Regions from separate parts of the Homo sapiens genome. Here all the other regions are linked to region 1. The links come from fine-mapping of genetic effects on gene expression. A gene starts in region 1. Each other region holds a variant in brackets. All regions are shown on one strand. Distances are from middle to middle.

Region 1 (10,181 bases):
AAACAAACAATTCAAAATTAAGAGTTTAAAAAGCAACAATCAAGACACATATCCTCCTAAGTGAATTTGAATTAGACACTGGAAAATTTAAAAAGGTCAGTTACTATGAAGAAGGTGTAACAATATTTATATTAATCAGACAGCAAAGTAACAAACTGACTTAGAGGAAGGAAAATAGTAAAATACAAAAGACTAAGTTAGCAGATCATTTTGATATCCAGATGTGCTGAAATGATGGACACTGAGAAGAAAGAATAGACAAAACTTGGCAACAGATCTTGGTATGAAATAAATATCCCATGAGTAGTACATAAAAGCCTGGAGAGAGAGGGGAAGGATTGTAAGTGTCATAGTTCTGACAGCTGCTCTTTCATCCTATGCCTTTAAAACAAAGGGAACAAAGAAGGGAACAAAGAAGGTAGAAGCGGGGGTATGGAGGGTTGACTTCTGGCTGTCCCTCCCTGTTTCCCTTTGTTAATATATTGCTAGTAGACATGTCTACTTCTGGTTGCTGATGACATAAAATTCACCTCTATTTCTTGGAAGCACTATTCCATGTTGTGAGCTAAAGGGGATTGTACTGATCTTGAAGATAACAAATCTGCCTGCTTCAAAGGTTTCACCGATTTTATTGCTGTGTTTCCAACACATTTCCACATATGGTATGATATTTAATTTGCAAAATAAATCCGTAAAGCAGGAATTACTAACCTAATTTTGCAGATGAGAAAACTGAGGCTTAAAGTTGTTCAAGGTCAAAGTCACGATGTCCATCATGCTGTAGCTCAATGAATGAGTCTCACATTGTTTCATGTTGTTTTATTTCTACTTTCTCAATCCATGTACAAGATAGATTTACAAACTACTGTTTTATGTTGGTTGTATGAATTTCAATACATTTACTGTTAGAAATAACAAAAGGTCTTAGACTGCCAGATGCTGTTCCCATCAACTCTACTTAATTCATAATATAGCTGAACTCTGTCATAAATCTAATAACGATGTGGACATTAGCCAGAAGTATGATGTGGCTGAACCTCACCACTGAACACAAAATGAGAATTCACCTCATCTTTTCATTTGAATTTATTTCTACTAAAATATATGTATTATTTTTCTTGATTTCTAACCAGGCCCCTTCTGAAGAAAACTGGTTAACTCTAAATTGTTACTAAATTTTGAATCTTCCTGTATTTAGCAATAAAAGTTACTGCTAATTGTAATAACAATTATGAGGAAAAATTTATTTAAATGCTTCATAGAAAGTTAATTTTCATTTAATAGAAAAGAAATAAAAAATCTGCTTCAGACTGTTTGATTTCTCTATTAGGCAATTGACCCTAACTAGTATATGGTGATTTTGAGTATTAAAAAAGAAGTTATAATTTTCCAGAATATTAATGTTTATTATTTTGAAAGCAAGTAAAATTCTCCAGTAGGAAGATTAATAAAACAATTCATTAAAATTCTCATCAGAAAATCCTATGCTTTCAAATGTATCTGCTCAAAGATGTCACTCTATGTGCGGCAAAGCTTTGTTTTACTTGATCAAGAAATGAATGTGACTTTATGATCTTGTATTCAACTGTGAACAGCTGCTCATTAATAAAAAGCCATTAAAGTCCAAGTCAGAACAGCAGGTCTAAAATTGTGTTTGAGGGAAAAAAAACCCACCCTTTGATGAAAAGCCAGGGAACTGGGTTGGGAAAGATCTGGAAGCAGAGGGCTGTGTTTGCAGTCTGCTCCTACCTCCTGGGCCAGGTCAGGTGACAAGGCCAGAGTTAGCCCCAGCTGGAGAAGTCAGAACAAAGCCTATGTAGGCTTTGAAAGGGGAGAGTAAGTGGTGGGCTGGAGGTTGATAGTGTGAATAAATCAAGCTGGTAATTGGGCAGAGGCTGATCAGAAGCGTTAAAGTGAGCAAAATGGTTTGGACACAGAGCAGACAGAATTTACTATATTCCATTGAGTAAAAGAAATTCATATGCCAGGTTCTATCCCTTATGTTCCTCCCATTTGACATCTGGTGGTTTCCTACCCCCGTCCCACACAAGCTTTGGGGAGAGGACAGGACTTAAAGTTCCCTGTTCCCAAGAGGTGGTCCCTAAACCCAATCCCAAATTATTGACTTGTGATCCCAATTATGGGCTTACTATTTAACAAGTAAAGATGATTTTAAAATATTATTTTATAGGTATTACTAAAGTAAATTTTAAATTTGCAGTCTTTAGCGAGCTTTGTTTTCTGTTTTGCTATTGTGTTGGGAAACAAGTACTCAGTAACTAGCTGTTTCTGGAAAAGTATATACATTTCGTTTTGTTTCATTTGGAAATGGCAAATTTAATAAAGAAAACTGAAGAATCAGGAAAAAGAAGAAAATATCCTTGGGCATAATAAATTGTCTAAAGCAATCAACTCTTTAAGAAAAAAAATTTAAACACGTTTATATCCGAATATAGGTTATTTTGGATTTTTTTTTTTTTTTTTTTTGAGTCAGGGTCCTGCTCTGTCTCCCAGGCTGGAGTGCAGGGCCCAATCATGGCTCACTGTAGTCTCGACCTCCCAGGCTCAGGTGATTCTTCCCACCTCAGCCTTCTGAGTAGCTGGGACTACAGGCATGCGCCACCAAACCTGGCTAATTTTTAAATTATTTGTAGAAACGGAGTTTCGCCCGTTGCCTGGGCTGGTCTTAAATTCCTGGGCTCAAGCGTTCCTCCTGCCTCGGCCTCCCAAAGTGCTGAGATTACAGGCATGAGTTACCGTGCCCAGCTAGATAACTCGATTTTTTAAATCCAAAAAAAATTTAGAAATTTTATATTGAAATTTAGGCATTAGAATTCTAGAGATTAAAGTTAGAGCAGGTGTTTAAGGGACTGAAAGGGGTTGCATGGCCTTTGGGAAATGCAATTACCGGAAATGATACTGTAGTAATGCAATAGTAATGCAGTAGTAGTAGTAGCTGCAGCAACAACTGTTATCTATGAATGTTTGCTATGTGCCAGGCTCTGTGCTAAGAGAGCTTTGCAAGCATTACTACTGCATGAAGTAGGCACTATTATGGCCATTTTACTGATGAGGAAATTGAGGTGAACAGATTAAATAATTTTACCCAACTTTACACAGAACCATTCCAGAGCACGAGCCATAAACACATCTTTCCCGTCTTGGAAATTAAATTATTAATAAAAAACGTGGTGCAAATTGGAAAGAGGACGGTTGTGGTAGATTATCACAAAGTTAAGTGGGTAGGTGGTTGCTGGGTCAGGGTGGGAGAACAAAGGCAGCTGTAATAAAAAAAAAAATTAAAGGCATATAAAGAAAAAGGCTTGTTGAGAACAATTTGCATAAACTGATTTTGGCCTTAGACCCTATTCACTTCTCCCTCACCAGTCACTTTGCAACTGTGGAGCATAGTATTCTGAGGGTCCCCTGCACATAACAACCCCTTTCATAGCATACAAGATAAAAAGAAGAATCAGGCTGCAAAGAGAGAAGCACTGAAGGAAAGAACATCTCAGGTTGAAAGAAGGGCAAGTCCAGGGTGCATGTGAGGAACAAATGCATGGACACGGTGAAGTGCCACTTCTTCATTTCTAGTTCAACACAATTCAATTAAAAATTACTGGGAGGAGGCTACGTCTTGAATTAAACTCAGCATTCCACATCTTTGAGGTGGCGGAATGACTGAGGGGAGGGGGTCTGTCTAGCCACATCCAAATCTTCCTGAGACAGAGGGAGATCCCTCATTTGTTGCAGTGTATTTTCCTTGGTCGCATCTGACACAGGGGTTCTGTGGGTTGAACAGAAAGGGACTTTGCTGGAGGGGAGGCACTCTGCATAGAAGGAAAGTAGGGACATCTGGCAGAAGCAGGCGCTCCGAGAATAAACAGTCAAAGCAGCTCGCAATAGTCCCAAAAAGCTACCCCTCACCGAACCTGGCGTGCCTGTCGCCGCTTGCCCCGCTCCCAGGGCTCATTGGCTCCCAGTCTCGACGTCAGACCCGTAGCCTCTCACCTATTGGGCCAGCCAGGACCTGAGGCGGAGTGCAGAAGCGAGGGCCTGGAGACAGCCGAGAGCCGCCTTCAAGGAGGGCTGGGGGCGGGGCTAGAGGAGGGGCTGGGGGCGGGTTTCCCGATGAAGGGGCGGCCATGGCAGCTGCGCAGAGGCAACGCAGGCTGCTACGGAGCGCGCGCCCGGCTTTGAATGAGCGGGGCTGGGAGTGAGCGGGCGGAGCGCGAGCTCGAGGAAGAGACAGGCAGCGCGCGTGAGCGCGCCTTGTGTGCGCGCGCGGCCCGCGGCAGCTCGGAGCCTCCGCCGGGCGGGCGGGGAGGGGGAGGGGCAGGTGAGTGTGTGCGGTTCGCGCGTGCCTGGGAGGGGCTTTCCTCTCCCTACCCCCATCCCGACCCCAGCCCTAGCCTCTGGGGCATTGTCTGCCCTTCGCCGTCGGCCCTCCGCCTAGCCGCGCACTTCCCGCCCTCCCACCTTCCTTTCGCCCTTCCACCAGACCTCCCTCGACGCCCGACAGCTGCTCTGGGTACTGTTTCCGGGTCAGGGTGACCTCTGGGGTGAGGAAACTGCGACTGGGAGCGGGACCCAGGCGTGCAGCATTCGCCATGCTCCGCTCACGCGTGGGAGACTGGGCTGTGGGGTACCGGCCCGGAAAGCACGCAGCCTCCAAAGCCGCCTTCCTCAGGGAAATTTGCGTGACCTTACTGCCCTCCGTCTACAGGCCTTGTACCTCTCCAGGCCGATTTTTCCACAATTTAAATCTCAGTTCACCTGGTATCCAGCTCCAGCAACTTAGAGCGTTTCACGTCACGCCGGGCGCCAGGCGTCGGCTTGTATAACCTGAAAACGCTCCTGTTTTTCTCATCTGTGCAGTGGGTATGATTTTTTTTTCATCAACAAATTTCACGTGGGTAATCTGAAATGAAACCACTTAAGTTATGAAACTCTTTCCTTTTGAGTTATTCTGGAGACCTTACTCCGCCTTCGGAACCGCCCCAGTGGTGTCACATACTTGAGGGCCTGACTCTCGGTTGCCAGACATGGCACAGAATGTTCGATTTTACTACCAGCTCTCACACTCCGCTTCTGTTTCCCCTTCTCTTACGGGCCGCTGCTCAAACCTTTATTTATCAAATTTAAGTGAGTTCAGGTAAATTTTATTTTGGGAGCTTTGTAATATTTTCTAACCCACTTCAGAGAGTTATAGTTTGAGGATATTCTGGACTGTACTAGATCATATGGTTTTCAAATTTTGGTATGAAAAGATTCGTAAATAGAGTTTTAGAAATACAGCACCTGTTTAGTATGTACCGAACATAGATTTTGGCTTTGCTTGTTTTGTGAATTGTGATGTATTGAGGCTACTTGAAAGGACCTCTAGCAGTTTACCGAGAATTTCAACAAGAAAAGATATAATACATTTGATCTATCAGTTTCTAATGTAGCATTCTTTTTTTAATTGTATTTTTTTTCCGTTAACATGGCAGAGCTCTCATTCTTGATTTCCTAGAGTTGTCATTTCTTCAAAAAGCCTTAATGAGGATACATTGCCTCATAGTTTTGAATCTCATTCTGATATACCTCAAATTTTTGTCTTTGTAATTTTTAAGGAAATTTAATGTTAAGATTAGATTATATTAACATTGTTCCGTTCTAGAAAGTGTTTTAAAGCAACTAAAGTGTAAAGTAGCGTAAGATACTTATCAAATTGGTGATCTAGAGGGCATTTCAAAAATCGCACTGAGGCAATGTGCACACAATTAAAAGGTTTCTTAAGTAGGATATGATGTAGGGAGAGCCTTGGGCTTTCGGGTCAGTCCCTTTAAATCCTGGGTAAGTGAATCTAAGTCTGTCAACCTCATCTATTAAACGGGAGTAGTGAAAAACCTACCTCTTTTGGTTGTCCTTAGGATTCCAGTGAGGTGATCGAACATTGTCTTGAGCGTTCAAGTGCTCAAGGAATGTTAGTTTCCTTCCATTCAACAAATATTTGAGTACCTACTATGTGCCCGGCTTTGACTGAGACCTATAAATACCAGAATGAGCAAGACTGATGGACGTCCTGCCTCCTTAGTTTCTTGCATTCCTCAGGGATAAGTTTATGGGCAAGCTCATGACAACTGGGAGTGAACGCAGAGTTTCCCCATGCGGAGTTGGTAGTATTTCCCAGCTTCCAAATCCAAAGTAGCGACTGAAACATAGTAGGTGCTAATATATATTCATTTAGATGAATAGGGACATTAAGTAAATACAGGTCTCAAAGGATATTCCTGCCTGCCAGTCAGTGTGATTGATAAAATCAAAGTGTGGCTTGATCGCATTTTCCCTATTTTAGTGCAACTGGTTGGAAAATTTATCTTGGAAGTGGTAGTATCACTGAATTATTAAGAATGTTCCTTGTTCATGAGATGTTCTTGGCTTTTGAATTAAATATACCTAGGTTTGAATGGAGTCACTGGATGTGCTTACTCTGTGTTTAATTCAATGAAACAAGGACAATAGTATCTATGTCATAAGATGGCTTTTTGAGTTGTGTGTTAACATTTTGATAGTGCATGGTTCATAGTAGACAGTCAATGAGTATCAGTTCTCCTCTTTTATTAATCACAAAAGGAAGTTTTCTGCAGAATGAGGATATTCTTGATTGCTAGGGAGAGAATTCTATTCTGTAATCACTAAAAGACCCAGTTTCTATTTTTTATTGGGAAAAAAAAAACAACCTTTAAATTTTACCTCCAGTTAGCATTGAAGTTATTCAAGTTGGCAAATATTTATAAAACAATGACACTAACAATATTTGGAAAGGTGATGGCTGTGGTTACTAGGGCAGTTTATGAAATTTATTCTCAACTTTTATTCATGTATATCCTAAAACTGACAGTCCCAAATGGTAAATATCATTTTTCTTCACAACATACTGATAGAGTATCTCCTTGATTCTATTTCCTTCCCTGCCAAGTACCACACGTTCTGTAGTCTCTTTTCTGGCTCTTTTTTCTTATAATTTTTCAGAAAATTTAGGCTAATTTTCATTTGAGAAAGTTTTCTTTTGATTGAGAGTTTTGTTCTTGACAAATCAGCTTTAAATGAAGTGATTGTTCACCATCATAATTTTTCAGATCATTCTACTCATAATGAAGCAATCAAACTTTTTTTTCAAGTCTTACTTTGCAAATGGTAACTGAAGGTACCAAATGAATAAAATACTCTAGAGAAGGGTTGTACAGGGCAAAGTAAGGTATAGAAATAACCATAATACAAAATAAAAAATGTTGTTTCTTGGGAAGAGTAAAATACTAGAATTAAGAAGACTTTACAGTACTCCAGCAAGAGGTAGTAAAGGCTTATGCTAGATAGATTACAGTGGAAATAGGAAAGAATATGGGCAGTACTGGGAAATTGAATAGGGTCTTTTTGGCAATTAGGTGTAAGGAGAAAGAAAGGAGGAGTCAGCATTGTTGCATGATTTGAACTTGAGTAAACCACTGGTTGGGATGTTTTTGACAGAAGTATTTAAATAACTCGAGTACAATTTTTAATATTCTGGTTCTTTTTTTTTTTTTTTTTTTTTTTTTTTTTTTAACAGTCACTGTTCTTTTCATCCTGTCAATTAGTAGGCCACTTCCAGGTTAGGCATTCAGTAAATCTTTCAGCTTATATGGAGAGACAGCCTCCATATGTACAAAACTACTTGAGTATTGCTAAGGTAACATTTTAGAGCCCTGTCTTTGTACCTTAATAGCCTACAAGCCCCTTCTGACCCTAGAAATAGAAAAGACTAGTGTGCGTTTTGCCTTTCCTTAGAAGAAATTGGCAATGATGCCTTTACAGAGCAATCAAGATCAGATACTATGAGAGTTAAGTATGTTTTTCTGGCTTTCTGATTTTGTTTTGTTCTTATTTTTTATGTGTTTGTTTGGAACTTTCGTATTGAGGTATAGCATACAAACAGTACATACAGTCAAGTATGTGGTGTTACTACTCAGATTGAGATATTAGATCTTAGCTCTCTAATGCTTCAGTATACCCTATCAGAGATGACCATTTTTTTTTACTATATAATTTTTAACCTATTCAATGTAATATTTTATTAGGTAAAAAGCTGCTTTTTTCAAGACTTTAGGAGTCTTGAATCCCCATGAAATGCATTTTTAAAAAGCATGGGCTGGGCATGGTAGCTCACACCTGTAATCCCAGCACTTTGGGAGGCTGAGGCAGGCAGATCACTTGAGGCCAGGAGTTCGAGACCAGCCTAGCCAACATGGCGAAACCCCGTCTCTAGTAAAAATACAAAAATTAGCGGGTGTGGTGGCATGTGCCAGTAGTCTCAGATTTGGGGGTGGCTGAGGCACGAGAATAACTTGAACCCAGGAGACAGAGGTTGCAGTGAGCCAAGATTGTACTGCTACACTCCAGCCTGGGTGACACAGCAAGACTCTATCTCAATTAAAAAAAAAAAAAAAAAAAAGTATGTTATAGTACAGGGATGGTGTATTTATCCAGGATGATTTTACTCCTTATGTTTCTAAATGTTATTGCTTATCTTATGCTCATGTAAGGTAATTAAAAAACTAATTAACATTTCAATTTTAAAAAGGTATATAGCTGTCCCTTTAATGTGGTCACATGATAATTATTACTTAAGTTAGGTTTTATCCGCTTTTAAGTAAGTATGTGTAGAACTGAAGTCCAAATATACTGCTTGTGCTTTTTTATTCTGGGAAAAAAAACTATCAAATTACTGTATGTTTTTTCTTTTTGTTTTAAGAAGTCAGCACTCTAAATAATTGTATTAATCAAGTGTTGTGATTGTTTCTAAAGGTGTTACTAATGGATTGAGAGGCCAGTCTGTTTTAGTTGTGATTTTGTTATTACCTGGTTGTTTCACCTTGAGCAGAACCGTTAACTTCAGTGTATCTTAGTTTCCTCATTTAGAAAATTTAAGAAGTTGGATGACGTATTCTCCAGCTGTTCCAATGACAGGAATCATGATTCTGAATACATAGTAATTCTCCTCCTTTGACAAAGAGAAGGCAAGGAAAAGCTAAGACATGAGATTCCATTATCAGTAATGTTATTCCTGTAAGTGTGTGCACATATGCACACACATATGTATGTTTGCCTGTGTATTTCTTGTGACTTGATTTAACATGTGGTCTGTTCTACCTCTCAACAGTGGAAAAATGACTATCTCTAATGGATTAACAGATTTTTTTCCCTCTTTCGTGTGTATTTTGAGGCTCTTAGTCGGGACATTGTCATAGTTACTTAAGTTTTCAACTTTAACTTGTGCCAAAACTCATCTTAAGAAATTTTTAAAATTAAATAGTGATTATTAGGGTAAATATATGCAGTACATATATAGTATACAATATATGCAATACATATATAGTATAGGTGACTAAGATGTATAAGAAAAATTTGGAAATTAAGAACCATGTTTAAAAAGGATACAGACCGGGCGTGGTGGCCCACACCTGTAATTTCAGCACTTTGGGAGGCTGAGGGGGTGGATCACTTGAGGTCAAGAGCTCGAGATTAGCCTGGCCAACATGCTGAAACCCTGTCTGTACTAAAAATACAAAAATTAACCTGGTGTGGTGGCAGGCACCTGTGGTCCCAGCTACTCAGGAGGCTGAGACAGGAGAATTGCTTGAACCCGGGAAGCGGAAGTTGCGGTGAGCTGAGATTGCACCATGGCACTCCAGCCTGGGCAACAGAGCGAGACTGTGTCTCAAAAAAAAAAAAAAAAAAAAAGGCTACCAAAATAATGCCAGTTTTACCTTTTTTTTTTTTGAAATGGAGTCTCACTGTGTTGCCCAGGCTGGAGTGCAGTCATGTGATCTCAGCTCACCGCAACCTCCGCCTCCCAGGGTTCAAGTGATTGTCGTGCCTCAGCCTCCTGAGTAGCTGGAACTACAGGCATGTGCCACCGCACCTGGCTAATTTTTGTATTATTAGTAGACGCGGGATTTCACCATATTGGCCAGGCTGGTCTCGAACTCCTGACCTCGTGATCTGCCCGCCTCAGCCTCCCAAAGCGCTGGGACTACAGACGTGAGCCACCGCGCCCAGCATAGTTTTATCATTTTTAGAATCTTTATTCCTATCATTGCTATGGCTGTAGTTTTCAATTCCTATATCATCTCTTTCATAAAGACATATATCTTGTTATT
Region 2 (10,181 bases), 24 kb after region 1:
AGCTACTAGGGCAGCCGAGGTGGGAGGATCCCTTGAGCCCGGGAGTTTGAAGCTGCAGTGAACCATGATCACACCATGCACTCCAGCCTGGGCAACAAAGTGAAACGCTGATTCCTAAAAAAAAAAAGGGAGAAGAAAAGGCAGGATTTCTACCTACTGCGGTCAAGAGGATAACTTGGTACTTTTCAAGGCTGTCATTTGCACTTTGTTTCAGTAGCTTTAAAAATCCTCCTTTCAGAAATGTATATTAAATAATTAGAAATATTTTAAGAATTTTTAACAGAGTATGGTATTACATATATTCTCAGGAGAAGAAAACTCAAAACATTCTATTTCATTTTTAGGGGTAAGTATTTAAAACAATATGATATTAAATAAATGTGTTCACAGATTGGTACCAGTTATTTTACACACAGTCACTTCCACACCTACCTAAACAGTCCAGCATGACCATTTTCATTGGTTATTGAAAGAAAACAGTGAACTTTTAGAGGTCTGGCTTGGGAAATAGAGGTAGGGACCAGTAGATGATACCAGGTAAGAAAGACTGGGAAAAGGAAGCATGACCTAGAAGTATTTCATTAAAGATAAATTTTGCATGATTTGTCATTTTTGCCTAGGATTGAGACAGTAAGTGCCAATAAAAAATCTCCAGTAAGTTACATATGCTTAAATGAAGAATGACTGTGCTAGTTTTTGAACTTCAGCTCGCAGTTCTTCTCAGCACAGATTAGTCCAGTCAAGGATTTCTAATTCAGTCTGGGATCAGTCAGTTTCTTGTCACTCTATCCCCAGCTCCCTCATCTTACTGAGGAGAGAAAGAAACAAAAGACATGTTCTGTTCTTGTTCCTTCCAAAATAAAGTACAGCAAAGAAGAGAATTTAAGAGAGTATCCCATGAAACATAAAGAAGAAAGCTGGCCTTGCCTAGGACTGTTGAACACTGAAAGTCATACATCAGTTCTAGGCAAGCCAAAAGCAAAATCATCTGTGCCTTGTATAGGACAGGGTAAGGAAGCTGAGAAGACATAGGAGAATGACAGGTTCTGAGTTATGTGTTAAAAGATACTCTTTTTAACGGCTATGTGGAGAAAGGATGGCTTTTACTCTCTTAATTTTGTTTTACTTTTCATTGTAGTCTGAATTAGGTGACTTAGATACCTGGCAGGAAAATACCAATGCATGGGAAGAAGAAGAAGATGCAGCCTGGCAAGCAGAAGAAGTTCTGAGGTATTTGAGTGGCATTTATATTGCAACCTGAGTAGAAGAACTAGATTTCTTCCCTGCTGTGTTTCAAGTCAAGGGAGCCTATTTTGCCAAATATTATATTTTTCTTCATTTGATCCTTAGATAATAAGGACTTTTTTTTTTGTATTTCAGACTGCAGATACTATTTTATATGATTAAAACCTCACAGAAACCAAGAATTTTAAGCTCTATAGGAACAAAATAACTTTATTAATGGCAAATGGAGTGTTATATATACATGTATATAAAAGGTTTTATATATATGTTTTATATATATATATATAAGGTTATATGCATATACATACCATATTACAAGCTTGATATTCCTCTAGGTCAGAAGTTACAACTTTATTTCCATTTCCTCATGATCTAGCATAGTGCCCAGTACTGCTCATTTGAGTGAAAATAACTTATGTGACACTCTACATTTGTACATATATCTTAAATGATGTCCATGAAAGCCCTATGTGTTAGATGAACTACCCATTCTGCAAAAAAATACTATTCTGGAAGTTTTAAAGTTCATTTTTATTGGTTGTTCTTTTTTGTGTGTGAGCAGCAAACATATTTCTTAGTACTGCTACATTAGGTCAAAGAGTAAAGAGAAAATTTATCTTAAGGGAGAGCTAGTGACTGATTACTGCTTTTTAAAAGTCAGATATTTAAATGCATCTAAAGAATTCATACATTTTTTAAATTGTGTAGTAAGATACAGCAATATAAATTTTTTTATTTTAAAATTGAGATTGTTTTTACCATAGGAATAGCAGACAAATTATTCTTTATCTGACTCAACAAAAAAACTGATTTCATTTTTGTATTTTCCTTTCTTGGCTTTGTCAATAAATTACAGTTACTGTGAACAACCAGCAGAGGGTGCAGCTAAATAACTGGGAATTTTGTTTGAAGTTTTTGTTTTTTTCCTTTGAAATATATCAAGCCCTTTTTTTTTTTTTTTTTTTGCAGGTTAGGGGACGTCACATTTCAAAATTCAGTCAGTAAAATTGTGAGAGTTTTTAAAATTTAGTTCTTATTTAATCAGTATAGCTTATCTTTTATAAAGGGAATATTTTTTAAATTGTGAACTATAACACTTAGGATATTGCATGGATCATCAAAAAAGATAAATCATCTCTTTAAAATTCTGTGTTATTTTAAAAAACAAATAATAGATACAGATGTCTGAGTATTTTAAGACATTTTGGGGATTCTAGTAATTATTAGTGCCATTAACCACAAAGACAAAGGAAGGGGTCTGTCCTTTTTAAATACAGTAATCTCACTGTAGAGTTCAAGCCATGAGTTCACAAGTATCTTAATATTGTACAAAAACCTTTTCTTTTTCATTCTAGCCTCTTAACCCCTAAGCAAAACAAATGAAAAAATGTACTTAAAAACTTAATGTTTTACCCTTTAAGGACAGCTTGGGAGAGTGAGATTGTTAATCCGTAATAGACATGCTTCATGCCGCAAGTACATAGGTAGAGCCAAAGAGAAATGGAGGTGTCAGTACATTGTTACTGCCCCTGAATAGACATTGAGCATTTTAAAAGTGTATCCACATTCCGTATTGTCTAACTCTGAGCTTTTTTCCTGTTGCCACTATAAATAATGCCAGTACTGTGATCAGTATTGCTAAGAATGAAGATTCTGGTACTTTAATAATTCCCAGCATGAATCTGGATAGGTAAAATGTATTTTTGTCTGCAGCTATCTCGTAAGTTGTCTCTTTTATACTTTAGTTTTTGATACAGATTGGGTATCCCTTTCCAAAATGCTTGGGACCAGAAGTGTTTCAGATTTTGAAATTTTTGAGAGTTTAGAATATTTGTGTTCTGCTGCTAGTTCATCATCCCAAATATGAAAATCTAAAATCTGAAATGCTCCAATGAGAATTTCCTTTGAGCATCAGGTAGGCCCTCAGAAAGTTTCAGATTTTGGAGCATTTCAGATTTCGGATTTTTGTATTTGGGATGCTCAGCCCTTATATTATTTCAGCTAGTAACCAGGTCAAAACTTCGTTATCTTACTTGTTTATAACCTAGCCAGCCCTTTATAATTTTTTCTCTACCTCCCTTTTTTCTTCTGGTTTGACATTTTTAGTTCAGATTATTAGTTTTTATTGAACATCAGCAGAGTGATGAAAAACAGATTTTTTAAAACTATTCTTCAGAAATTGATAGCAAAAGTCAAAATGTTGCCAAAAATAGTTTCTTTACTTTCTTGAATTTTGGTCATCCATAACTCTGCCTACTCCTGTTTATGACTGAGAACTGTACATACATTTCACTCACTGTAGTTAATATTGAGCTCCCCCAGACATAGATAATCCACTTTGGATTTTTCTGCATATAACCTAATGTTGCCTATTCCATGCCCAATTGTGACCTGTAGCTTCCTTCCTCAACGTTGCATACTTGAATGATTTTCTCACACCCTAACCCTTCAGATCCAGGACCAATGTATGTTTACTCTGCTCTCTCCTGTTTCATCATCCCACTCCTACCTCCACTCCCTACATTAACCAATCAGTAAAGATAGAGAGAGTGAGTCTGGGTCAGTGGAGTTACGGAAAGAGTAAGGAACAGGTATGTATTTCACAAAGTATGATTAGTAAATACCTACCACTCTTTTTTTTTTTTTTTTAAACTTAAGTTCAGGGGGACATGTGCAGGATGTGCAGGTTTGTTACACAGGTAAACATGTGTCAAGGGGGTTTGTCGTACAGATATTTCATCAGCCAGGTATTAAACCTAGTATCCATTAGTTATTTTTCCTGATCCTCTCCCTCCGTCTAACCTCAGCCTTTCCGGTAGGCCCCAGTATGCATTGTTCTCCTCTATGTGTTCATGTGTTCTCATCATTTAGCGCCCACTTATAAGTGAGAACATGCAGTATTTGATTAAATACCCACCACTCTTCTCTTTGGTAGAGTTAGTCACATGTTAATCCTGAAATTTACTTGGTGGAAGGTGTATCTTAAGTTTCCATTTTCTTTTTGGAGCGTGTGTTCTGTTCAGCTGTGTTCATCATGCACTTTAAAAACTGGCTGTTTGTAACTACTATAATAACAGGAGATTATCAAGCTCAATATCAAGCTTTTCTGAATGGTATCCCCAGAAAAAGATGTGGTTCAATGGAAGTATTGTTTTACAAAATGGAGATAATCTAAATAAGAAGTGTCAGAAGATGTGAGTTCTTATCCCTGTACTTAATCCTATGACTTCGGGCAAGTCACTTAGCCTTTATGCCTCATTTTACTTATTTGTAAAATAGAGATAATATTTCTTCTATTTCACAAGTCACGTTCTAAGGACTAAGAGAAATCCTGTTTTTGAAAATATTTGGAATTTTCAAATTAGTGAGAAAATTTTAAGACTTTCAACATTTTATTTGGTGATAATAAAAAGGCACTGCTATTTCTTTCTAGAATTTATTTGCCATTTTACCTGTTTGGTATTTTCTAAAAGTAAAAGTATGTTTCTTTTCAGACAGCAGAAACTAGCAGACAGAGAAAAGAGAGCAGCCGAACAACAAAGGAAGAAAATGGAAAAGGAAGCACAACGGCTAATGAAGAAGGAACAAAACAAAATTGGTGTGAAACTTTCATAACACATGTTCAAATTTTATCATGCCAGTAGGAGAAATCTCAGCTCCACAACCCAAGCAACATTTGTATGGATTTAAGAGTATTTTAAGAAGACATACTGCTTGATTTTAATACATTGATCAGGCCATCCAGGACACCACGATTCTCCCAAAGTACCTTGAACTCTTAGTGATTGAGACTCAAAAAAACAAAAAAGACTTGAGACAATGTTTTCTTCAACATGCTCCAAATATAAGACATTTGTTTGCTGTACAGAAAGTATCACAAATGGAATATATCAGTACCTCTCAAGCTAGTGTTTCTAGCTAAATAAATGGGTGTATATAATTTTATGGTGGAAAAGAACTGTACTGTCTGTTATGATTTCCTTCAATGTGCATAATGATAAAATAAATAATTTTAATATTCTTTTGTTTCCATGGTTACCTGACCTAAATTAGATAAATTGTAGGGCTTTAGCTTTCTTATTTTTGTCAAAAGTTGGTGTTGACATACATTCCCTCTAATTTGAACTGGTATTGTTTACGTTTGATACAACATTAAGGAATTTGATGATTTTCATTTCATGAAAATGACATTAAATGCAATAATTTTACTTATCATAAACATTTT[G/A]TACATCATTATTTTCTTTTGGATTAGTGTTGTCATACATGTAATTTATATCACATGTATAAACATTGAAAATCAACTAAAATGACATTTGTTCTACATTATAACTTGTGAGTTTCAAGAACTAGTATTAGTAGTTTTTTCCTTTCATTATAGATTGTAAGATGTTGTGGTATCTTTGAGTGCCTTAGTTCTTCCTTCCTCCCAAAAGCCATTAATTTACAAATGCTTAAAGCCATCAGGTCAAATATTTCAAAGCCTTTAGATGATTTCTGTACTAGCTTTAGATGTCTGACGTTATGTAGGTTACCTGTGTTCTTGGCTAGGAAAACATTATTGATTCATTAAATCATAAAGGTGGGAATAATAATCTTTTATTTATGATGTTGATTGGCTCCAAAATAGTCTTAAGGAAATAAATACTGGGTCTGTAGGGGAAAAGTAGACTTCATAGTTTAAAATCCCATTAACCTTTTCACCGCAGTTGAAATGCATCCAGCCTGATTTTCCTATCATTTTGGAATTTTTAAGGATTTTTACTTTCTTAAGTTACTGCCTAGAATCAACATTCGGTGAGATTTTGAAATGTCATAGATACTGTACAGGCCAAACCTTACTAATTTATTTTACTTAAAGTGATATTTTATAGAAAAATCATAAGTTATACAATGAGAACCCTTTAAGCCCTTAGCCTAAGCTTTCAGACTAAATGTGATTATAGAATAAGATGAAAGTTAACTTTGGTACAGAGCTTTTTATAGCCCCAAATTATATTTCCAGTTATTATATTCATTAGAATTTCTGCTAATAAACTCCCAACTTAAATAGAATTGGGCTCAAAGTTTTAATAATGTATTCTCTTCCTTCTTTGTATTTATAGTTAGTTATTATGGGAATACAACATATCTTCTCTAAATTTGGAATTCATAAAGGATAACTTCCTTTAGCTCAATTACTTGTATTGCTTTTCCCTAGTAGCTGAAAAGTATTTAAGTTTGGTTTGGTCATGATTTTCATGTGTTTGAGGTTTTTGTTGTTGTTGTTTGGCTTTTTGGTTTTTGATTATTTAAAAATAAAGACATTAGCAATTATAGTTAGTATGATTAGGAAGAAATAGATTTTTCTTGTGGAAAGAATAGATAACAATTCTGGAATTTATTTTATCTCTATTGATGTGTAAACTAAATTCCTGTATTAACTTGGGTATATTTTGGTCCCAAAAGTAGTCACTGAGTTAAATGCATATGACAAACAATTCATGGTAGCATACTGTCTCTTTTAGCTACTAAATTTATGGTTTCTATTTTTTGTTTTCTTGATTTCAATAAAGAATTGTCAGTTTTAGATGCTTATTAGAAATAATAAGAAATACTGGTAGGCATAGATAGAATTAGTGAAGTTTTAACCATTAGCAAAATCGTGCATTTCATGTACTGAGATAACAAGTAATCAAAGACATGGGAAACTTACCTTGTGTTTTTTTTTGTTTTGTTTTGTTTTTTATGTAGTAATTTCATGGTTTCTAGCCATTTCCTCTTCTTAAGCTTTACCTAGGGATATTCTCTACTTGGCTCTTCTTTTAGTATAGCATGTTTAATTGAGTTGACATTTTAGAACTGAAAATTTGAAATTCTGCATCCGAATTTCTCAGTTTTGACATGCACTTGCCTCTGGGTGATTATTTCTAGGTTGTTTCTACATGAAGATTGGTGATTGGGCAGAAGGTACCTACAGAAACCAGCATCTGGATCGAGCTTCCAACACCACTCTACAAGCTACCACCATGGCGTAAACCTAACCATAGTCAGTGTTCCAAAAAGCCTGAATTTTGTTGAGAATGGTATGTTTACTAAAGGATGGTTTGAGCCAGACAGAGCTAACATACTCATCTTGTTTGATCCTATGAAGTTCAGATTTGGAATAACCAACGATGGTTTTCATACTCCTTAAACCCCTTGCTCAAAGGAAATCTTCAGGCATGTAAGCAAACATGACAGGGTTCCGAATGGATCCCTGCTGGGAGGTTGGGAGTGGGCTAGAGCCTACAGATTGTTCCAGGGAAGGAGCTAATACCCTCTCAGGTGAACTGGAGGGCTGAAGAAGATAGTGGGTTCATGAAGAGCATATTTAGTAGCTAATAACTTAAACTTGTTTTTGTCATTTGCATAGTTTTTTTTTTAAATTTGAACTGCTCTGTCCTAATACAATACGAAGAGATTTATTTTTTTCTTTGTGTAATTCCTTTCACTTTTCTTTAACCAAAACTATCCCAAGCTTACAGCAACAGCTAGGTACTCTTTTTATACTCAACTGTTTTTTGTTTTTTTTACATTGCCTTCTGCTTTTTATCTTCCATCCCTCTTGGTCATGACCATTGGGCATACTCAATAACCAGAGTAGGTTTTGAGAGCTAGTAAAATGCTTTTTCACCAGACACCTTCGATCTTCTATAGCTTGAAAGAAACACTCTATTCTAGGGACCTCCTTGACCATCTTTTACCTTCAACAACAGATTTGTTTCTATCCTTTCATACCTCCTGCTGACACTGCTAGTTCACCAGTGGAAACTTTTGCAGAGAAGCTCACTGAAAGTCTGCGGCCAGTCCAAGATAATCCCAGCCTTCCCTTTCAGGGGACTTCTTTTCAGGGGATCTTTCTGTAGATGCTTTCCTTATATACATTGATCAGATCACCCCGGCTCTGAGAGGTTCCCAGAGTTCTCAGAGCTTCTGTAGAGGTAGTACAGCATTAAACAAATTGCCAGAGTTTGCAAATCTTTTAAATGGAAATGGTGGTTGTAAGGATTGAGACTGTACATAAGTGTTCAGTATAAGCACTCAATAATTGGAAGTTGGTATGAGGCCCTATATACTTCCCACATCTCACCATGCAGTGGTATTGGCAGCCCCTTCCCTGCAAAGAGTGGGAGAAGTTGCCTAATCTTGCAGTATTTTATACACCTTTAAATTGAACTTGAAATTTAGCAAGAAAGAAAACATTTATTGTAAGTCTGAGTCTTTGACTAATTATATCAGTGACTCTTAGCAATCCTGTAAGAGATACTACCCTTATTTCACATATAAGGAAACCAAGGCCTAGAAAATAAATTGTGTACTTGATTAATGGAATGGAAAATAGCAACCTTAGAGAGGAGGTTATAATAGTGGTTAATCAACAGTCTATGTAGACTATGATTTCTAAGGCCTCTCTTGACGGAACTATGAGCCGCCAAAATGCCTTTTAAAGTTTCTCCTAGTTCTTAATGAAGATAGCATTACAAATTATAGTAGATAATACCCATTTGTGTTTTCTAATAATTTAATAAATATGAAGAAAATTAGCTTGGTTTTTATTTTCATATAAATGACAACTGTAGTTGAATATCAGTGCCATATAATTTCATATTTGCAGTTTATTTGGGTCAGATAAGGCAAAATGAAATTGATTTATATTCACACAACTGCAGAAATAAGCCAATTAGCTCACTTGATTGGGTCATAATTATAATGAGGTCAAGGCCACAGGTTCTATGCATGTGCAGATCAGTATCGTACGTAGAGTCCTTCCTGCTACAAACTGTCCCTGACCTTGTCAGTTATTAGTGAGTGTCTAGGATTTAGTTGAGAGAATGAATGGCACAGAAGAAAACATCTCCTTGTATAGAAAATTCAAAGGACATACTCTGATCAGTATGTTGACTTATTCTTGGAGCAATTTTGGCTCTTTATAAGATATTAACTACTGCCCATAATTAGTTTTATTTGTTAAAATATTCAAACCTTAATTTGAATTCTTATACAGCAATGCCATTTCCAAACCTGTTGACTATTCCTGAATAAACGCAGTGCTTACCTATTTTATGGAGAAAACACCATCGTCAGATATAGTGGCCTCTGAAATTAACTCAGCATTTTATTGCAGTGCTAAGTGAAGATGTGCATAAGAATATAGATATATTTAGCTTGTCACATTTAAGTTTAAAATGTGAAAATACAAGTGCTTTTTTTGCTTTGTGAGGCTCTGCAGTGCATCTGAACCTCGTAATTACCTAATCTGTCTTGATTAGAAGGAGCCCTTATGGAGTGAGACAGTGCACGGGCGATCATTTTTAAAACTTGTCCATGTACAGCTTCCAGTGGGAGATGTAAAAATTATTGTCAGCTTTCATTTTTCATTTTCTGTATACAACCAACAAGCTAGAAATAATGTGCTGGTTCAGAAGAATTAAAGGTCAGTTTTAAATGCCAGCACCTATTGTTTACTGTAGAAAGTGAGGCTGGCAAACCATTTCAAACATTGTGAGCTACTTTAATTGCGAGGAAGGGGAGAGAGGGTCTTAACTGCACCATCAAATTAGAGAAGCCATGATACCTACCTTTAATATTCACAAGGGGAGTCAGACTTGATTTTATAATACATTGTCATCTTATATGTATCATGATAGTCCCAGATACTTACGTGGCTTCTATAATCTGAGGGAGAGAGAATGAGTCCTCTTCATAGTTAGACCAACAAAGCACTGGCAGACAAAATTTTGTAACAAAGGTTTAGAAAACAATTTTGTTAAGCATTCCTTATTTAGGGCAACAGAGAAACATATCTTCAGCATTAACCAGAGCAGTATTTCAAGTAACAGTTTTCATACGTGAGATCTTACATGAACTGGAAGTTTTCAAAGAACCTGGTATATAGGGAAATGACATGCAAGCTCTTC
Region 3 (10,181 bases), 57 kb after region 1:
TAAAATTATTATTAATAATGCAGTGGTTCCTAAACCTAACTGTGCATGAAGATTTATCTGGGAAGTTTAATAATAGTGCAGATTTCTGGGAAACTCTCACAAAAATTCCAGTTCAGAAGATCTGGGAGGAGGGTGGCCCAGGCATCTGCATTTTTGATAATTACTATAGCTGATTGTGCAGCAGGTGGTCCATGAACCATATTATGAGGAAGAGAGCTCCAAAGGTAAAAAAGTGCCTGGACTTTCTCTCCAAGTTCTGTCAAATTGCAAGAGCTCTCTTCAGTGCGATGTGAACAATGAGTGAGCAGAAATGAAGACAGACAGGCCAGCAAAAGGAAGAGGAAGAAATTCACGGGCAAAGTGCACTCTGAGAGAAGAATTTAATCTACAGAATGATCTGTACCCCCACGGCTCTCCAGAAACACTTGCCTGGAGTGAATACATTATCAGAGGACTGGAGGGAAAGACAGAATGTACATAAGGCACAGGTTGTTTGAAACTGGGCCAGTTCCAGCCAAACTCATGTACACAAATGTTGGTTTGCAAAGCTAGTAGGACACTTAACAGTTGGTTCATGGTTCAAAGTCCTCATAATCCTGTTGTAAAAGAGAAGGGTCCAACCAGTGTGCTGTTGAACGTGTCAAATGCCATTCAGCAGAGAAATAACATTTCACAATCCAGCATACCCTGCACTGGGGTTATTCCATCAGTGCCAACCTGAATTTTCCATGGCAGACATGCTTCACAGCATCAAAGGAACTACACACAGGCATTCATCATCTCCCACACTGACTCAGCTCAGGAACCACTCCAGTGGCAGGCATGTCCAACGGGCAGCCCTTCCCCCACTGCCTTTCACCCAACAGGTCTGGGAAAGGTTACATCCACCGTGGTCATAAATGTCATCCTAGCTCATTATGTTGGGGACCAAGTAATAACAGAGCAAATCCTCCCTGAAGTATTTTACAGACTTGTACATGGGACTTATCTTTGATTTCTTGTCAAATTTACTGAAGTGAACTGAATTTCTACCCCCTTAAAAGAACTAGCTGGAAAGCCTGCTGCTTCTATTTAAGGAGAAGCATTTATCCAGTGTTTACCAAAATGAGATGCCTGCCCTCCTGTCTGGCAGGAAAACCTACATCAGGAAGAGCAGCACTAATGGTGGTGCTGGGTGCGGAGCAGGGGTGTCATTGCAGGAGGCATTCATAGGGGAGGAAGGAGGTGATGAAGGACTGGGAGAGAAAAATGGGGAGTGAGACACCAGGAAAGACAGAAGGTCAGGACAGGGCTAGGATTTAAGTCTATGACTCAGTCCAGAATATAAGGGAGAAGGAAAAGATGAGAATGTTTTGGAGTCACCTCATTCTCCACTCTTCTTCATCTCAGTGAGGTGGTGCTGTCTGCTTGCAATTCTAGACCACAAATGGAATAAAACACCCACTTACTGGGAAACAGATGACATAATTCACAACTCGTTGCCAAGACATCCAATGGGGCCCTAAAATAATTTTTTTTAAAAAACTCACTTCTGTACTTAAACATGGCTTTTCTTAATTGACTCTAAGACCTAACAACCTTGACCATTCAACCCCCATCTTCATCCTCACTGTGTGACAACTTCCAGGGCACACTATCTTCTCAACCCACAGGTTCCTTTCTTCCCTTGGCAGTGGCACTCAGAGTGTCAGGAAGGTTGCATATGTCTCGCACGTGGCTCACTCCCTGGATTTTCTCAGTAGCACTGACCTCCACCTCCACTGCATTTAAACAGAGCAGAGTTCTGACACTGGACTCAACCATGCTCCCCTTCCAATATCTTGACATGCTTTCACCCTCCTCTCTCTTTCTCACTTGTACTTTCAGTCTCTATGAAGTTATTTCTCTGCCTTTTTAAAAATAATATGGTTTAGTAGTTTCAGTTGCTAGCTGTGTGACCTTGGGAAAGACAAGCTCTCTGAGCTTCATTTTTTTCTATGAAAGGAGAATAATAATAGTATCTATTTCATAGAGTTGTTGTAAGGATGATGTAAGATAATATATGTAAAACATGTAAAAATAGTGCTGGCACTCAGTAAGCACTTTAAAATTTCACTATTATTTTTACTTTTCTTCTTATGATTACCCTCTTTGAACCATATCAAGGTCCCAAAACATGTGAGGCCAAAATCTGGAAGAACTTAGAACAGTGACAAGGAATGAGGCGAGGCTGTTGTGTAGTGTGAGTGGCAAGAAAGGATTCAAAACAAGCATGAAAATAAAAAAAATAAAAGATGGTCCTGGCAGAGGATGGTAAAAATTCTTCTTTTAGATTATAAGTCAGTGAGTAAATCCTCCTTAGCTGTATTGACTGAATATCCCAATTTCACAGGAAGGCCTGCAGCACACTAAACAACAGGGAGCTAATGACCCAACCCTTCTTATAGGGTCTGTGGCTCACGAATAACACATGGTGAGAGCTGTTATCTCCACATCAGTTCATATTTGTGTGTTCTCCAGCTTTTTGCTAGCACACGTGGGCTGAGACCATAGTCCTGCCTTCAGAGAGAGGCAAATGTCTTAGGAGGGACTCAAGTTAGGTGCTAAGAGAGGTCAACAATGGGAAAGACTGTTTCCTGCTGGAAGCATGAAGACTTCATGGAGGAGGCACACTGAACTAGCCAGGTTTTGAAGCCATTTACAACAATTCAGGACTGTAGCATGCAGAGCTGTGGAGACAGCACAGTGTGAAGGGAACAGCACACAGAGATGGTAATGCTGAAAGAATTAGAAGCAACAGCAGGGAATGAGGCAATAAAGGGAACTTGGAGGCAGGCGAATTTAAAACCTTCCTTAGACACAGGTCCCAGTGGTTGCCACTGGTCAGGTTAAGAGTTGCTCATATTTGACACACAGGTCTTTTTCATTTTCTAAAATTCCCACTTTCACTTCTCTAATAAAATATGCAAACATATTACCTTACTCAGAGAGGTGAAAATGAAAGAAAAGGAAGCACATATTTTTCCTATTCTAGGGATCCTACAGCCACAATTCTGTCTGAAGTGATTCCACTGACAACCCTTAATGGTCTACTGATCCGTGCCCTTCTTGATCTCCATTTAGAGGCTGAACCTGCTGACGTGTGAGGTGAGGAAGTGGCAGGTCAGAGAGTGCCATACGAAACTAAGCATGGAACTATTTTTCTATACGTGAATGACATTTCATTATTTTCTCTATGACCTAGAAAGTTGTTCTCTCAATGTATTTTTTAAAAGAGTCTCAGATACAAAGAACTGGATTAATCATAATTCTTGGTTTTTGACATTCTGTCATCATTGGCCCATGCAAGGCTATCTTTAATTTATTTATTTACTGACTGCTCTGTTTAGGTATTTATGTTTTGTTTATGTTTAATATAATAAATGAAGAAACCACCAATCCATCACAAAAACTAGAACAGTGACACTAACTTACATGCATTTATGTGGTCTTCCTTTATCTTATCCCCTGTTCACCATTTCCTTGCGTTCACTTTTACAAAGAATGATCACATCTATGTATTTTTAAAAGGTAGAATTTGAGGATTTTTGTTTTATTTGTTTTTAACTTTTTAAAATAAAACAGGTTATCATGATGTATATA[C/A]AATCTTTTGGGACAATTTTCATTCAATATTATATTGCGAAAATTCTCCATATAGTTGTAGTGTGTTCATTTGACTGCTACATAATATTAGAGTGTGTGATTTTTATCCATAATTTATACTTCATTCTCCCGATAATGAGAAAATGAGTTGACTTTATTCCAGTTACTCATTTAGCTAGATTTTCCATTCTGATAAACATGTATTTGCATTTCCAGAGTCTAAGAAGAAAAATCAAGAGGAAATCTACTCTTAATAATGTATTCCATAGGCAAAAAGAAATGCTCTGTGGATCACCTGTCCTTACAGATTTGTACTTTTATTTACCCTTCTTCCTATCATTATGAATAATTAAAAGTAGTTATGAAGAGTAAAAGTAAAACTAGAATCTCTGTTTTACCTTATTCCAATTTTAGGGTCCAATATGCCTAAGGTGACCCATTGTCTCATGGTAGCTCTGACCCTGAATAGCCCTCAAAGATCAGGAATTACGTGATGCCCTGTTGAGTTTGGCTTAGGTCACTTCACAACCCTGTACTTAAGACTTGGCAAGGAGATGGGCCCATGAACATGAGAAGCTGACCCAGAGTTGCTGGATTATGCATACAACCTCATCGAGGGAGAAACCTCTTGTCCCAAAGTGGGGAGGAAGAGTGATGGGGGAAAGCTTCCCTGACGGTATGTGCTGGTGTTTAATGCAGCCCAGAACTTGTTCCTAATTCCAAGGCCTAATTCCAAGTTGCAAGCGAAGAAAAGATCATCATTTTAAGGCAAGCCCCACTGTTTTGGAGAAGGAGAAGCCACCAGTTAAGTCTCTATATTAAAGCTGGGTGCAGTGGCTCCCGTCTGTAATCCCAGCACTTTGGGAGGCTGAGATAGGCAGATCAATTGAGCCCAGGGGTTCGAGACCAGCCTGGGTAAAATGGTAAAACCCCATCTCTGAAAAAAAAAAAATTAGCCAGGCATGGTGGCATGCGCTTATAGTCCCACTACTCAGGTGACTGAGGTGGGAAGATCAATTGAGCCCCGGAGGTTGAGGCTGCAGTGAGCCATGAGCATGCCACTGCACTCCAGCCTGGGTGACAGAGTAAGGCCCTGTCTCAAAAAAAAGTTTTTTGAGTCTATATGAGGAAGTAACTGCTATGCTTTTTAGATGTTACAGGCAAAGTAAAAATTTCTATCTTTTGATTTTTATCTAAGCATCTATGTGTTAGAGCTGATGACTTGTCACTTCAAAATGTCTTTGTGAAGTTAAATGTCTGTTGAGCGAGTCAGGCAATTATGGGATAGATTTTAAACCATCCTCAGTGAGTCAGAAACATGTTTCCCAGGTGGTGCTGATGCTGCTGGTTTGGAGCCACTCTTTGAGAGTCACTGTTTCAGAAGAATGAGAAGATGACTAATTTAGGAGCAGAGGTGACATTCTGTAAGATTAAATAACTTATGGGTAGAGGTGAGACCCAGTAATATATGTTTTAATAAGCCCTCCAGGAATATAGATGCTAAAGTTTGAGGACCACTGCCCTAAGACAGGCCTATGCCTGAGATCCCCCAGCAGCTTCCTGAATGGCTGCCTCTGACAAAGTGAGAGCAGCCGGCTTGACTGTAATTTGACATACAGATACACACTGTAGTATATATTTTGGGAACATTTTTACATATTTCACATCCAAAATGAGTGAACTGCTTAATTTACTTGGCATAATACTGAGTGGTACTAACCATGCTGCATGTAATTGACAATATGTTTTTAACAGCTGTGGTTAAGAGCAGGTGCTAGCATCAGCAGATTCAGGGCTCAAATATCCACTCTTTCATTAATGACAGTGTGACCTCAGGCAATCACTTAACCTCTCTATGCCTAAGTTTACTCACTGTAAAAAGGGACTAAAAGAGTACCTATCATATGGAATTTTTGTGAGAATTAAACGCCATAATATGAACTACTGTAAGTGCACAGTAAATACTCATCATCATCATCATCATTAGCCTACTTATCCACGTGTTTGGTATGTGTGCTGCTAAACACTAAATTTTTCTAATAATTCTTCCATATGGGCACTGTAGACTATCTAAGTAATGTGATTTAAGAAGGAAAGGTATTTATTAAGTGACTAAACTCTAAATACAAGTGATAAGTTGTAGATGACCTAGTTTCTCTCGGGAATAGTTAGAAATGGCTTGTTATGTTCACACCCTGTTCAAAGTGCCTTACAGGCATTCTCATTGAATCTTCATATCAAGCATATGAAAGAGGTACAATTATTATTCCTATTTTACAGGTGAGGAAAGTAGACAACAGGTAAGTTGCTGAAGGTCACACAGCCCTTATGTGGGGATCTGAAACATCACAATAAGATTCAAAATGTGCCTTAAACACCAGGAAAGTATACCTGCGTGGAACTTCAAGACTTGGGGCAATTTTGCCACCCTCACCCCCCATCCCACCCAAAGTGTTTGCTTGCACTGAAACCTTTGAAAACACATTTACAAACAATCTGCAATAAAAAGTCTTAACGAAATCATCACTACTCTATTCTGTATCCCCCACCAGAGAGCAAACAATTAGTGAACACAGACTATACTAGCAAGGAGACTGCCCTTGCACAGTAAACCCTGGGGCTGTGTCATTCATCTACTTTCGACAAAGATAATAGGATTGAATCTTCATTCTTAAGCAAAAAGTTAACATAACAGAAATACATTTTAAAGAAGTGTTGCCATTTGAAACATCAAATAGATAGGGTTTTTTATGGTACAGTCTGAGGACCACCTGCATCAGTATCACCTGGCCTCTTTGTTAAAAATACAGATTCTTGACTCATACTCCAGATCTGCTGATTGAAATTTCTTTAAGTCAGCCTCATAATCCATTTTCACAAATTGCCCAGGTGATCTTCTACGCACAGTAATGTTGAGAAATCACTACAACAAATGCTTCTTGTTTTCAAATCTGTCTGTTTAGTAACTGTGTCATCTGTCTGCTCTTTCCCATCCTGAATTCTCCACCTGAGGCCATCATCATTTCTCACCCAGAATTACTGAAACAGCATCACACTGTGCCCAGCTGCTCCTTGTGGCCCTGAGCAGTTTGTCTTCCACACTACTCCAGAGAAGAAACCTCATTAGGCAATTCCCTTGTTGAAACTCCTCAATGGCACCCTGTGTCCATGAAGTCCAAACTCTTTAGCACGATTTACAAACCCTCCATAATCTCTTCAGACTGTCATACCATAACCACTGCCAATGGAACCATTCACAGTTTCCTGAAGGAGGCACGATAGCCTCTAGACTCCCAGCTTTCACACATGCTGTTCCCTCTAGCTGGATTATTTTCCCATCCCTCTGGGCTTGGCTAACTACTACCTGTTCTTCAGGTCTCAGTTTAGCCTTGAGCTTTACTTCCTTCAGGAAGGGGATTAGGTGGCCCTCCTTTATCTGACCCCACCAAGAATTTAACAAGTATTTATCACATTGCACTGCAATTGCCTGTTTGCTTTAACATATTTTCCAGTATGCTTGTCAGCTCCTTGAGGGCGTGTTCTTTTGTATCCCCATGTGTCACACAGGGTTTAGCACAGAGTAGGTGCTGTTGTTTTGAAATGTTATTTCACAGCATTAAAAGTTTCTCCACCATTGGCATTTAGGGATAGCTCCTCTTTCTCCTATTTTGCCCTTTAGGTTGGATTGACAGACTGATGTTATTTCCAATTAGGACAAAAATACTCCCTTCCACTCCTACTTCCAGCCTGTATGCCCAAACCTCTTAAAAGTCAAGTTTTCAGCCCAGGATACCAGCATGCAAAAACCACGCTAACTGCAAAGACCTCTGTCTTGTTCATCACTGCATCCCCAGAGCCAAGAGCACAGAGCCTGGCTTATAGGAGACTCAGAAGAATATTTAATGAATGAGGGAAGAAAGGTACCAAAAGAACTTACATATATGATTGCAGAAATGGTATCATTAACTTTGAGAAACTGGAAAGGATGGGAGGTAGAAGATTGGAAATGGGCAAAAACTCTGCAGGTCATGAACATAGAGAAAAGATAAATTCTGAAAATCACAAACTGCTGTTTGGTGTTGATTTCCAGTAAAATTGTAGAGAAAGTCCTTTAATAAGGCAAGAAGGAGCCAGCAGGAGTTCACTGGCTCAGATGTGAAAAACAATCTGCACATCCTTTTCTGAAGGAGTTAACATGGCCACATACATCACATATTTGGAGTTCAGCAGACGTTTAATGCAAACACTTAGGATACTCTTATGAACAAGGTCGACATGTGTGCATTGGGTGATAGCACAGTCCAGTACCCACGGGATGTTGACAAATGGACTGTCTGTCAACCTCTAGGGAAATCTCTAGTAACACATCACCTGGCCCTGGTGTTGTCCATATCCTATTTAACATGCTTTATTAATGACATGAATGAAATCATGGATGGTGTGGTGTTGGCGGCAGACTCCTGATTACACAAAACCTTGAAGGGATAACTAATGCATCGGATGACAGCATCAGATAATAATGCCACTAGCCACTGTGGACTCAGAGCCTACTCTGCCAAGAACTCTACAGCTGCTATTTCCTTTAATCCTTCCTCCCAAAGACATACAAGTAAAGACCAGGAAACCAAAGTTCTGAGTGATGCTGAGACTCACCCCAAATCACAGAGCTACTAAGCAGCAGAGCTGGCTTGTCTGACATCACTCTGCTTGATCCTTGTGATCAGAATTCACAAAGATCTAAGATCAGGAAACCAAGACAACAATGTTCAATCTAGTCCATCTCAACTATGCGTTAAACACTTCCTAGGCTAAGGCACTGGATGGGGGAGGCATGGAGAAACAGTTCCAATGCTCAAGGGTTTCCTAGGAGGAGTTAGACTATACAGACAAACAACCAGGATATAAGGCAGAATACAATGAGTGCAAACAGAGAGGGCGGGCACCCAGAAAACACAGAGGAGGAAGAAATCTTCTTAGCTAGGGTGAAGGGATGAGGGCAGGGGAATATGTCATGGGAGAGATGACACTTGAGATGGCCCTGATACACCAGGAAGAATATAGTGTTGGGGGCATGGACAGGAGTTGACCTTGGGTGAAAGAGATCACATGAACTAAAACACAGAGGAAGAAAAACACAGGGCATGTTTAGTACATATATGGAGTCCCTTGTATGGCTAGAATATAGTGATCATATGAGAAAATGCAGCCAAAAAGGTGAGTTGTAACCAGAGAGTTGAAAAATGTAAAAATTATGCTATGGGCAAGAGGGAACTATGACATACTGAAGGCAAGAGAGAACCATAATGAGTTTTGTTTGGGGTGGTAACATGAACAGTGATGCTTTATGAAGACAACATGACAGCAATATCTGAAGGAGAGACTGGAGGCTGGTGGGGAATTCAGGTGACTGTTACAGTTTGGAGATGGGTCATAAGGTAAGGGAAAAGGAATGCTGAAAAAGGAGACCCTTTCCAGGTAGCTCTTAGGTTCCACAAAATTAACTGTATGGGTTCAAAATCATTTGACACTCCAGATGGACAAAATGATTAAAAATAGAAAAAGGATAAAGTCAAGTTAAACATTAAAAAACACCTTTATCTTATGCCATATGCTTGACTGCAGTGCTACCCACATAAAAGAACAATTGAGTGGAGATACGTATGTTTGGAAAAGCAAACAAAATGGGAAATATCTCAATCAAATGAAAAGAACAATGTCTCTTATATATTGCCTGAAGAATTTGTGAAGAATTGGATAATCTGATAAGAATGGATTGAGGTACTCCAAGATCAATACTAGATTTAACCTCTGTGTAATTTTTTTTTTTTTTTTTTTTTGAGACAGGGTTTCACTCCCATCGTCCAGGCTGGAGTGTAGTGGCATAAACTCGGCTCTCTACAACCTCTGCCTCCTGGGCTCAGGTGATCCTTCTGCCTCAGCCTCCTGAGTAATTGTGATTACAGGAGCATGCCACCACACCCGGTTAATTTTTGCATTTTTGGTAGAGACAGGTTTCATCATGTTGACCAGGCTGGTCTCGAACTCCTGACCTCAAGCGATCCACCCACTTTGGCCTCCCAAAGTGCTGGGATTACAGGTGTCTGTGTAATCTTTCATGTAAATTTCGTTTGCAAGCACAAACGTCAATACAATAAAACAAATAAGCTGGGTAAATTCTGGCAATTTCTGGCATCTGTAGGGAGTGTGAGAACAAAAGCAAATGGAGAAATGGAAGGCTTAGTGGCGTTGGGGTTGTTTTTAACCCTGACATGTGTTCAAGGAACTCAAATGAGAAAGGGAGAAACAGAATAATGAAGTCACAAGAAAATATTTCCAAGATAAGTCCTGGCAGCACAACAGAGAAATGCCTGGATCAGGTGATGTGGTCACAGGAAAGCAGGTGGAAAGCAGGCGGAACAGTTCCTGCACGCCTGCCTTGGGACACCTGTGCAAGGACCACAGAGCCCAGTGTCCGCCCCAGGAGGGGACATGCACTGGGATGCCTCGCTCCTACTTCTGTCTTCCTTCTCGAGCTGGGGCGGAAGCCGACAAGAGGCAAA

Alleles and levels. Positions count from the first base shown, and alleles are read on the strand shown. Sizes are in standard deviations (SD) of each study's normalised expression. Not every link is listed here.
In carriers of allele G in region 2, the expression in skeletal muscle of the gene that starts at base 4,593 in region 1 tends to be lower than with A alone (large effect, 0.82 SD a copy in FUSION).

What was found. PIP is the estimated chance that this variant, and not a neighbour inherited with it, causes the effect. A credible set is the group of variants that fine-mapping cannot tell apart.
Region 2: its variant is the best candidate, but not a certain one, in a credible set for the expression of EBAG9 in skeletal muscle (FUSION, PIP 0.56).
Region 3: its variant is the best candidate, but not a certain one, in a credible set for the expression of EBAG9 in lung (TOPMed, PIP 0.63).

Annotation. Positions count from the first base shown.
Region 1 is chr8:109,535,581-109,545,761 of GRCh38, forward strand. EBAG9 (estrogen receptor binding site associated antigen 9) reads left to right here and starts at 4,593. Exons shown (of 7, transcript NM_004215.5): 1 at 4,593-4,881. It overlaps EBAG9UORF, which reads left to right and starts at 4,146. Exons shown (of 1, transcript NM_001436381.1): 1 at 4,146-4,220. The coding sequence starts at 4,146. The coding sequence ends at 4,220. It overlaps PKHD1L1 (PKHD1 like 1), which reads left to right. Exons shown (of 78, transcript NM_177531.6): 78 at 1-1,627. RefSeq lists a silencer at 3,992-4,541 and an enhancer at 4,602-4,961.
Region 2 is chr8:109,559,700-109,569,880 of GRCh38, forward strand. It overlaps EBAG9 (estrogen receptor binding site associated antigen 9), which reads left to right. Exons shown (of 7, transcript NM_004215.5): 6 at 1,139-1,230; 7 at 4,740-6,297. The coding sequence ends at 4,860. Among named protein-coding and RNA genes, the nearest start is that of EBAG9, 25 kb to the left of the region's middle. The variant G/A (reference allele first, on the strand shown) is at 5,471.
Region 3 is chr8:109,592,993-109,603,173 of GRCh38, forward strand. All of the region lies in intron 3 of SYBU (syntabulin), which reads right to left. Among named protein-coding and RNA genes, the nearest start is that of SYBU-AS1, 46 kb to the right of the region's middle. RefSeq lists an enhancer at 2,566-2,645. The variant C/A (reference allele first, on the strand shown) is at 3,622.